Linked DNA regions of Homo sapiens: region 2 is linked to region 1. Evidence: fine-mapped expression QTL. A gene starts in region 1. The other region holds a variant in brackets. All regions are shown on one strand. Distances are between the middles of the regions.

Region 1 (5,337 bases):
TGGATAATGGGCTCTGTCTGCAAAGCTAGGAGATCAGCCTAGAAAAAGAAACACACCAACAAACACCAGGAAACTATGTGTAATGGTTTGCTGCTTGTGCAAAAACCTCAAAGAGGATGAAGGTCAGACAGGGATAATAGGCCAATTTAATTCTGAAAGCACAAGGTGCAAGAAATTTTAATTATGGTCTGCCACTGAAATCACACAAGATCCAATGGCATCTAACTGCAACTGCTCATCAAGGGAGACAAGAGGTGTAATTGTAACCGCTGCATAATCACTGTGAGGGCACAGGGAAGGCTGCCTTCAGCTCCCAGCAGAGAAGGTATTAAGAGCCTCGAAAAATCCAATACGGGGAAACGAGATTGCATGTAGCCAAACAGAAGCTCCTAACACAAAAGCCAACCCGTGTGTGTGTGTGCGCGCGTGTGTGTGTGTGTGTGTGTGTGTGTTGAGGGTGAGGGTTCCAGAAAGAAAATGTGAAGCTGTTTGGCCCACACTGGGGATAAGAGATTGTTTGAAAACTCTGAACCCTTTTCTGTTTTGTGGATAAATGCACACAGAGAAAAGAGCACTGTCTCCTTTAGGTATTTCTCTCCTTGATGAAGCTTCACCCACTCTCCTTTGTTTAAGACAATTGGCTTGGATGTTACCGTGATTTACAGTACCAAACTCCCTTTAATTTGTTCCCATCAAACCCAAGTCTGGAGACAAAACGCCAAGCACACGACTGGAGGTGCCCAAGCCTGTGCAGCTCTGGCAGCGACGCCGCCGGCGCCCCCGGGCGTTTTCCCCGCACCCCACATCGCGTGGGCGCCCGTAAAGGCACGCGCGGAGAAAGCCCCTCCGTGGACTCCCCACTCCGCAAAGTTTAACAAAGCCGTGAAGTAAGGAAACCGAACCTCCCGTCCGCGCCCGCTGCAAAGTTGGCATTGAAGTTTGTGCCGGGATGTCCCAAATCTTGAGGGGGCGGGGGGCGCGAGTGTGCAGAGAGGCGGGAGGATGGATGCAGATGGGGAGACAGTGAGGGGAAGGGAGTTTTTCCGAGTGGACGGTCCGTGAGGCGGTTTTCTTCACCCGGAAGCCTGTTTGACTCAGAGAGGTCCGGGAGGTGCACGCCAGGGGAGGTCTCCCGGGGCGGGCGCTGTCGCCGAGGAGGCCGGCGAGCTGTCACCTGCGGGGGGCTGTGGTGGGAGCTGAGGGCGCTCTCCTAAGCGCCAAAAGAGGACGGGGACATTCACAGTCACCGGCTCTCGGGGCTCTAAGTAGTGGGGGAAGGGATATTCACGAGTGGGCAGGAGGCCAAAAGCAACACCTTTCGGATACGCTTTTCCCCTCCGACCTCTCCAACTTCCCGCGGCGCTGGTCAAGGACTCCCTCCCACCCCACCCCATCCCACCCAACCTCCCGGCCGACAATTCGGACCTGTCCACGGCAGAGCGTGGGGTGGAGTGCGGCGGGAAAGCAGAGGGCGCGAAGGTCGGGACCCCAAATTGCAAACCCTCAGCCCCTAGCAAAGACGACCAAATGCATTTACAACCGTGCAAGTATCTCAGCCTTGTAACAGAGCTCCGGGTTTGCGCCGGGCACAGTTCCCCGACTCTTCTGTTGTTCCTAATAAAGTCGATTACGTTGCCCTCCCGGAGCTGATTGGAAGGGAACCGAGAGGAAAAGGGGGGGAACGCGGGAAAAAGCGGGGGGGGGGGGGGGCGAGCAATCAACTTTGTAACCCAGCGCTTCCTCGCGCGATCCGTCGCCATGCTTAAGATTCCCACCCCCGCCGCCCCCCTCTTGCCTTTCAAGTGGATACTGAAACTAGGCCAAAACTTTTTCCCCTCCTTTTCTCTTAGCCACTAGACTGGATTGTGCCCCACGGAGCCCCATGGAGCTCTGCTTTCTTAAGCACAATAGCCGGACTAATTAGATCATAGAAGCAAGGCAGTGATACTGTAACAAGTAGCCCAAGAGGCAAAGAGGGAAGGGGCCCGAAAAGACAGAAAGGGGGAAAAGTTTGCAGCTCTCCGCACTTACCAATCAAGCCTCCCACCAGAAAGGCGATGATTTGGAACACGAGCAGAATCCCACCAACAATGCACAGCTTCTTGGTGCTCATGTTTTCTATAATTGCCCCAGCCATTTTTGCGCCCCCCCTTTTTCTTTTCTCCTTGAAATAAATGTTTTAGGGTGAGCTTTTTGCTCCCTCCTCTCACACACTCCCTCCTTCCTCGCCTCCTTTCTGGGCGCTGCAAAACTTCAGAGGTGCTGGAGCGCGGCGAGGATGGGACCGGGACGGAAGGCGCCCGCACGGATTCCCCCGGCGCAGCCGGCTCGGGTTCCCCCAATGCCCGGAGCTGTGATTGTGGCCGCTCCGCCGCCTGTGGACGCTTAAAGGAGCAGGGAAGCGGATCACATGACGCCGCCTCCCTCCCTTTCTTCCTCCCTCCCTCTCGCGCTTCCTCCCTCCCTCCCTCCCTCTCTTCCTCTACCCCTTGCCCACCAGTTCGGGGCTCAGAGCTCTGGCGGGTGCTGGCGCCTGGCTCCCGAGTCTGGCCTGCAACCTGTCTCTCCAAGGTCTGATGCCATTTAGGGGTTGCTGTTGATGTTAAGCGGGTTCCCCCTGCCCAGCTTCTCACAGGTTTCCTTTTCTGGTTTCCGAAGTGCGAGATTTAAATCACCGGTGGACCGCCTTGCAGACCTTTAACTTACGCGTTGACTTTAGGAAATGGTCCCCACCCCACCCCCAACTGCTAGAACTCTCTTTAGGAAAGAGGAGGAGAATTTTTTTTAAAAGGACCCAATAGATGCCTAAGTCAAAACACAGAGATGCGGAATAAAGTCTCAGCTCGACTTCTTTCTACCAGATTCCCAGCCTCGGTTATTGGGCACATACCCAGCTAAATTCCCCACGGCGCCCCTTGAGGAAACTTGCTCTCCAGCCAAATCAGACCACTGTTCGTTACTCCAGCACATGTGCTTCCACAGCCTTAACCCTGGTTATTGCCTTAAAGAGAACATGTTCTACTCCATCAATGTTAAACCTGATCCAAAACCAACTAGTGTTAAAAAATCTTTCTAATTTTCCACACCACCTCCATGCAGTATCTCTGGGAACTGAGCCCCTACAATCCTGTATTTACATTTTTACCTCCTATTGTAAGGATTTGTGTACACGTTTGTCTCCACCACTGAGCTGTAAACTCCTGGGGAATAGGGACCAAGTTTTTTTTGTTCTTTGTACCCCCCATGGTGCCTAACAAAATGCTAGCTCTAGTAGGTGCCCCATAATCTTTTGTGGAATGAATAAGTGAATGTGAAAGCAAGCCCACAGTTTGTATTTCAAAGGTCTAAAGAGATCTTAGTTGGTTTAGAGGGTACCTATATTAAGTTACAATGTTTGTTGTCTCTTTGTGAGAAATCATATATTTATATTTATACTTAACTTCCATAAAAAGAGGGGCGGGGCTCCCGATAGAGATTTCCTGCTCTATCAAGCCTAAATTTCTGGGCCTGGTTTTTCCATGTTTCATAAACTGGCCGCTTGGCCAGTACAACTCACCTTACTCAATAGACCCTTGGTTTGGTAAATACCCCACCCTGCTCCCCAAACGTGCAGTTTCTACCACCACCACCCACACATCTTGTTTCTTGTCCCTCCCATCCTTACACACCCTCTTCATGCCAAGAGACTATTTTTCCCAGTCCTCTCTCCTCCTCTACTCTGTTCCTGAATTTTCATTGCCCTTATAAAAGATGTCATGCAGGTTACACTTAATAGAAGCATTCATTTCTAATCTCCAAATAGAACAGAGACTTGTCAAGGACAAGCACCAAACTTTATGCATACAAAACTCCATCTCTTCAACATCTAATAGTTCTTAACAGTTCTGAGGATATACACATCATTATGTGTCACATAAGGATGTTTCAGTCAACAACAGACCGTGTGTGTGACAGTAGTCCTATAAGGTTATAATACCATATTCTTACAACACCTTTTCTATAGATATGTTTAGATACACAGAGTGCTTACTATTGCATTACAGTTGTCTACAGTGTTCAGTACAGTAACATGCCAGACAGGTTTGTAGTCTAGGAGCAATCAGCTACACGGTGTAGCCTAGGTCTGTAGTAGGCTATGCTACCTAGGTTTATGTAAGTGCCCTCTATGACATTTGCACAATGACAAATCACCTAACAACACATTCTCAGAAGGTATTCCCATCATTAAGCAATGCATGACTGTGGTTGCTGTTTATCTATTCTCTCATTCAACTCTTTATCCAAGTCACTTATTGAGCCTTTAACATGTTCCAGGCTTTCTTTCTTAAGCACTCAAGGATACCAAGATGTCAAAGTACTTGCACCTGCCCCAGAGGAACCCCCCCCCAGTCCAAATGTTATTCACTGAATAGTAATTAATTACCTCTACTTTGGCAAACACCAGGTACTATCAGAAAGGATGAAGTAGACAGAATTGTTGTCCTTCCAATGTCCTTCAGTTCAAAGTACTCAGATACCTTGGGGTATCATGTTCTGAGCCCAGCACTCCTAAGGGCCCATTTATCTTTCCTAAAAGTCATTTGTTTTCTCATAAATACACTTCTTCTCCTATTAAGATAGAATATAAGCTCCAAATTCTATTAACAACTGCCTCCTTGAGTGGTTATGAATGCCCACATACATTTGATATATGTGAACAAAAATTTGTCTTTTGCCTTGCTAATCTGTCTTTTGTCAGTTTAGTCCACAGACCCCCAAGCACTATGCATAAGAGGGTAGAGAAAAAATGGTGGGTTTTTTGTTTATTTATTTGTTTGTTTGTTTTTGAGACAGAGTCTCATTCTGTCGCCCAGTCTGCAGTGCAGTGACACGATCTTGGCTCACTGCAACCTCTGCCTCCTGAGCTCAAGCAATTCTCCTGCCTCAGCCTCCTGTGTAGCTGGGATTACAGGTGCCCACCACCACATCTAGCTAATTTTTGTATTTTTAGTAGAAATGGGGTTTCGCCATGTTGGCTAGGCTGGTCTTGAACTCCTGACCTCAGGTGATCCACCCACCTCTGCTCCCAAAGTGCTGGGATTACAGGTGTGAGCTACCACGCCTGGCCCCCGTCCACTTCAAATATAAACTGGATCCATAAAAAATGTCTGGAGTGGTAGAAGTGATTTATTCAGATTAGTGAACTCCTTGACTTAGTTTTTAATGAGCTGCTACAATACACCCCACCCCCTCTGCTCTGAAATGCATCTCTGCAGAGTAACTAGCCTAACTCCTTAGGTTTCAGTTTTCTCATCTGTAAATGAGTTGCTGGTTCTCCACCAAGATGATCCCCTGCTT
Region 2 (5,384 bases), 38 kb after region 1:
CACATACAATGATGTGCGGTATATAATACTTTGATAATAATAATAAACTTACTGGTTTACGTATTTACTGTACTATATTTTTATCATTATATTAGAGTGTACTCCTTCTATTTATAAAAATAAAAAGTTAACTGAAAGATGGTCTTAGGCAGGCCTTTAGGAGGTACTCCAAAAGAAGGCACTATTATCACAGATGAGAGCTCCAGGTGTATTATTGACCCTGAAGACCTTTTAGTGGGACAGGATGCAGTGGTGGAAGATAGTGATATTGATGATCCTGCCCCTATGTAGGCCTAGGTAATGTGTGTTTTTGTGCTTAGTTTTTAACTAAAATGTAAAAAAGTTAAAAAAAAATGATAAAAGTAGAAAAAAAGCTTACAGAATAAAGATAAAAAAATAAAATATTTGTGAACAGCTGCAAAATGTATGTTTTAAGATATGTTATTACAGAAGAGTCACAATGTTAAAAAAATTGAATTTATAAAGTAGATAAGTTACAGTGAGCCAAGGTTAATTTATTATTAATGAAAGAAAAATATTTTAAAACAAATTTAGTGTAGTCTAAGTGTAGCGTTTGTAAAGTATACAATAGTGTACAGAAATGTCCTAGACTTTCACATTTATTCACTACTCACTCACCAACTTACCCACGGCAACTTCCAGTCCTGCAAGTTTCATTCATAATAAATGCCTTATATAGGTGTGTTATATGATATTTTATTTTTACTGTATTTTCCTATTTTACAGTTTTCCTATGTTTAGATACACAAACATTTACCATTGTGTTACAATTGCCTGCAGTATTCAATATACTAACATGCTGTACAGGTTCATAACCTAGGAGCAATAGACTATACCTTATACCTGAGGTGTTAGCAGGCTATACCATCTAGTTCTGTGTAAGTTCCCTCTATGATGTTTGAATAACAGCAAAATTGCCCAAGGATGCATTTCTCAGACGGTATCCCCATCATTAAGCAATACATGACTGTAGTTACATTTTGGTGAAAAGCTTGTGGCTTACTTTCTTTTCCTTGATATTAACGTATTTGTTGTACAATATATTAAAATTGGGAATACAAAAGGTGTGTTTGTGTGTGTGTTAATCTTTTTAATCACTTTCTATGGGAAGCGAGATTGCATTTCATGTGCACGTGCCAATCTCTCACTGTTGCTCACTGGGAATGACTAATATCATTTTTCTTCCTTCTGGCCTAATGCAAACAAGCCACTGTGACATCCAATTTCTGATTTTTGGTCAATAGAAGGCTCAGATTTCTATTTTTGTATTGCCAAACAATTTGCAGCTTTAAATATTATTTTTGTTTAGTATTCACACATGATAATTTTTTTGGAGGTATCAGTCAAAGGCCAAAGCCTTTTCCACACAATACCACTGACCTTCCTTCAAAATCCATGGATGCAAAAGGACAGATAGTGGAGTGATAATTGGTGAAATAAAGAGGGAGTTGCTCCAGACAGGAGACGAAAGTTGCTGCTATTGAGACCAAGAAATGAAACCAAACTGTTTATCTATTACTGTATAAAAAGCTAACCCAAAAGGTAGTGGTTTAAAACAGCCATATTTTTGCCCATAATTCTCCAATTTGGGCAGAGCATGGTGGTGGCAGCTTATCCCTGCTGTGTGGTGCTGGACAGGGTGACTCACCTGGGCTGGAGAGTCTATGGTGACTTCACTCACACGTCTGGGGCTCCAATGGGGGTGGCTGGAATGTGAGGTATGGCTGGGCTTGTTTCTCTTTATACAGCCTCTCTGTGCATCATGGTCAATGAACTCTTTATCAAACAGCATCCTATTAAATCATTTGATTCTCACATTAATCTCTAAGGTTGTATCTTAAGAACTGAAAAAGAAACGGAGCCCTTTTACTTAGTCTTGTTTTCCCACTCAACCTGTATTTTTCTTGGAACTTATATGTATTTACATATTTCTGTATGCAATTTATTTACTTTAGTTTATTGTAGGTATTCTTATAAACTGTCCTAATTCTGCAGTACAGATACAAAGATAAATATGTGGTTTGTTACATAAATATGTTACTATTTATCTATCTTAAATCAGGCTCAGGGAGGTTTAGTGACTTGATCAAGGTTACATGCCTAACGCATGACAGAGCCTAACTTGGTACTCAGCTTTTCTGAACCTGTGAGAGCTAAATAATAAAATCCTAATCATATTATCTATTTTAGATTTTCTTAAACTCCTAGGTTATAGAAGGATCACATAATTATTAAACAGAGAAAAAAATTGAATATAGCAAATAATTTTTTTTTTTTTGAGACAGAGTCTTGCTCTGTCACCCAGGCTGGAGTGCAGTGGCACTATCTCGGCTCACTGCAACCTCCACCTCCCAGGTTCAAGCATTTCTCCTGCCTCAGCCTCCTGAGTAGCTGGGATTACAGGCACCTGTCACCACACTCGGCTAATTTTTTGTACTTTTAGTAGAGATGGAGTTTCACTATGTTAGCCAGGCTGGTCTTGAACTCCTGACCTCATGATCTGCCTGACTCAGCCTCCCAAAGTGTTGGGTTTACAGGCGTGAGCCACCACACCCGGCAGCAAATAGTTACATACCTTTTTAATTAGGTATAGTCACCATGTTGTACAATAGAGCTGTTGAACTTATTTTAACTAATTTGAACTTACCTAACTGAAATTTTGCGTCTTTTGATCAACATTTTCCTAAGCCCCCTACACTCTCTAGCCCCTGGTAACCACCATTCTACTCTCTACTTCTCTGAGTCCAACTTCTTTAGATTCCACATGTGAGATCATGTGGTATGTATCTTTCTGTGCCTGGCTTATTTCACTTAACATAATGTCTTTCAGGCTCATTCATGTTGTCACAAATGACACAATTTCCTTCCTTTTAAAGACCAAATAGTATTCCATTGTGTACATATACCACATTTTCTTTATTCATTCATTCATTGCTGGACACTTGGGTTGATTCCATATCTTGGCTGTTGTGAATAGTGCTTCAATGAATGTGGAAGTGCAGCTGTCTCTTCTATTGCACATACTGATTTCATTTCCTTCAGATATATACCCAGTAGTGAGATTGCTGAATCATATCATGGGTTCTATTTTCAATTTTTTGAGGAACCTCCATATTTTTTTTTCATAATGG[A/G]TGTTCTAATTTACATTTCCACAAACAGTGTATAAGGGTTGCCTTTTTTCCACATCCTTGCCAACATGTTATCTTTCATCTTTGCAATAATAGCCATTCTGATAGCTGCGAGGTGATATCTCTCACTATGGTCTTAATTTGCATTTCTCTGTTGATTAGTGATCCTGAACATCTTTTTCATATACCTGTTGGCCACTTATGTGTCTTATTTTGAGAAATACCTATTCAAACCATCTACCCATTTTTGTATTAGATTGTTTTCTTACTATTGAGTTGTTTGAGTTTCTTATATATTTTGAATATTAACCTCTCATCAGATGTATAACAGATAATTTTACAAAGTAATATCTTATTTAAACTTCAGTTTACTTGAATTCCATTCAGTAAATACTTATTCAGCGATTACTCCATGCCAGGTGCTGATCTGTGTGCTTAGAACACATCTCTGAACAAAACAGATATTCCTGCCCTTGCAGAACTTACTTCCTAAAAGTGACATTTAGTAAACAAAACAACCAAATCATTTTACTGTGGGAAGAAGAATTTGCTAATGTTGTTGTGCAGAGATTGAGCAGGAACTTATAGTGATGATTTCATGGTATTATGAAATGATTTCATGGTTTTTTTGTTTGTTTGTTTGTTTGTTTGTTTTTTGAGACGGAGTCTCGCTCTGTCTCCCAGGCTGGAGTGCAGTGGTGCGATCTCGGCTCACTGCAAGATCGGACTCCCGGGTTCACGCCATTCTCCTGCCTCAGCCTCCCGAGTAGCTGGGACTACAGGCGCCCGCCACCACGCCCGGCTAGTTTTTTGTATTTTTTTAGTAGAGATGGGGTTTCACCATATTGGCCAGGCTGGTCTCGAACTCCTGACCTTGTGATCCGCTCGCCTCAGCCTCCCAAAGAGCTGGGATTAGAGGCGTGAGCCACTGCGCCCTGCCGGTATTAGTTTTTAAAAATATTTTTGTTAAAGAAAAATTCAACTCTGCCAATCTCTACTTAATTGAGAAATCTGTGTGAGCTTTACCCTTGGCTATGTCTCTTTAAACCCTTGAACTTCTCTGTCAATGATTTTTATGCAGATTCACAATTAAAATTCTAAAGTGTTCTTCATGTCCCCACCACTACTCCTCTCCTCTTAGGCTGACCCTGAAAAGACAGACTTCCAATGCTTCATGCATGGCCCTTAATTTTATTCTTACTCTTCACAGTTGAACACAAATATCAGCTTAAGTCCAATAATAATCTATTTGAGATGTAGATCTGCCATTTAGGGGATATCTTTTATTATGTCACAATCACTTTTTTGTTATGGCTTTTCACATATTAGAAGGGCAAATGCGATTAGCTATTCAAATAATAGAACAAGCAAAAATTGCTGCATAAAGATAATGATGCCATCCGAATTGAACCTAGGAATCCTGGCCGAAGGCACCACTAGTTGAGAGTTCAAATTCATGCTCATTGGGTGATGTGTGGAAGCTGATATTAATTTAGTACTTTGAGTGTCAATGTGCAATGTATAAGATTTCACACATTAAAAAAATACAAATTTGAAGCAGGGCACAGTGGCTCACGCCTGTAATCCTAGCACTTTGGGAGGCCGAGGCAGGCGAATCACGAGGTCAGGAGTTCTAGACCAGCCTGACCAACATGGTGAAACCCCGTCTCTACTAAAATTACAAAACTTAGTTGGATGTGGTGGTGGGTGCCTGCAATCCCAGCTACTCAGGAGGCTGAGGCAGGAGAATCATTTGAACTCAGGAGGCAGAGGTTGCAGTGAATCGATATTGTGCCACTGCACTCCAGCCTGGGCAATAGAGCGAGACTCCATCTCAAAAAAAAAAAAAAAAAAAAAAGATAAAAATTTCGAAATTTGAGAACCATCTTTATGAGAACAGCTCCTGATCCTGAAGTTCTTACAATTCAGCTCTGAAGGCCAGATAGATATTTTAAAATGTCAGGAAACAATAAGGCCACAAGGGGAAAAAACAAAGAAATGATACAAAATGATACAAGGACCAAACCGATGAATGGAGTAGGAAACAGGATATTTTGATGCAGATGATATAGTAGGTGCTTGATAACATTACCTCATTTAATCTTCATGACGATACAGTTTTACTAATTAGAATTTTGAATAACATGCAAGGGCCATTAAGGAAATTTCTTATGGACATATAGTTAGAAAGAAAAAAAACCAGTTTGCCTACCTTTAAAGCTCAAATGATGAACA

Evidence for each region. PIP is the estimated chance that this variant, and not a neighbour inherited with it, causes the effect.
Region 2: its variant is fine-mapped to the expression of WLS in whole blood (TOPMed, PIP above 0.99).

What each region holds. Positions count from the first base shown.
Region 1 is chr1:68,230,163-68,235,499 of GRCh38, forward strand. It overlaps WLS (Wnt ligand secretion mediator), which reads right to left and starts at 2,361. Exons shown (of 12, transcript NM_024911.7): 1 at 2,032-2,361. The coding sequence starts at 2,137.
Region 2 is chr1:68,268,135-68,273,518 of GRCh38, forward strand. No RefSeq gene overlaps it. Among named protein-coding and RNA genes, the nearest start is that of WLS, 38 kb to the left of the region's middle. The variant A/G (reference allele first, on the strand shown) is at 3,153.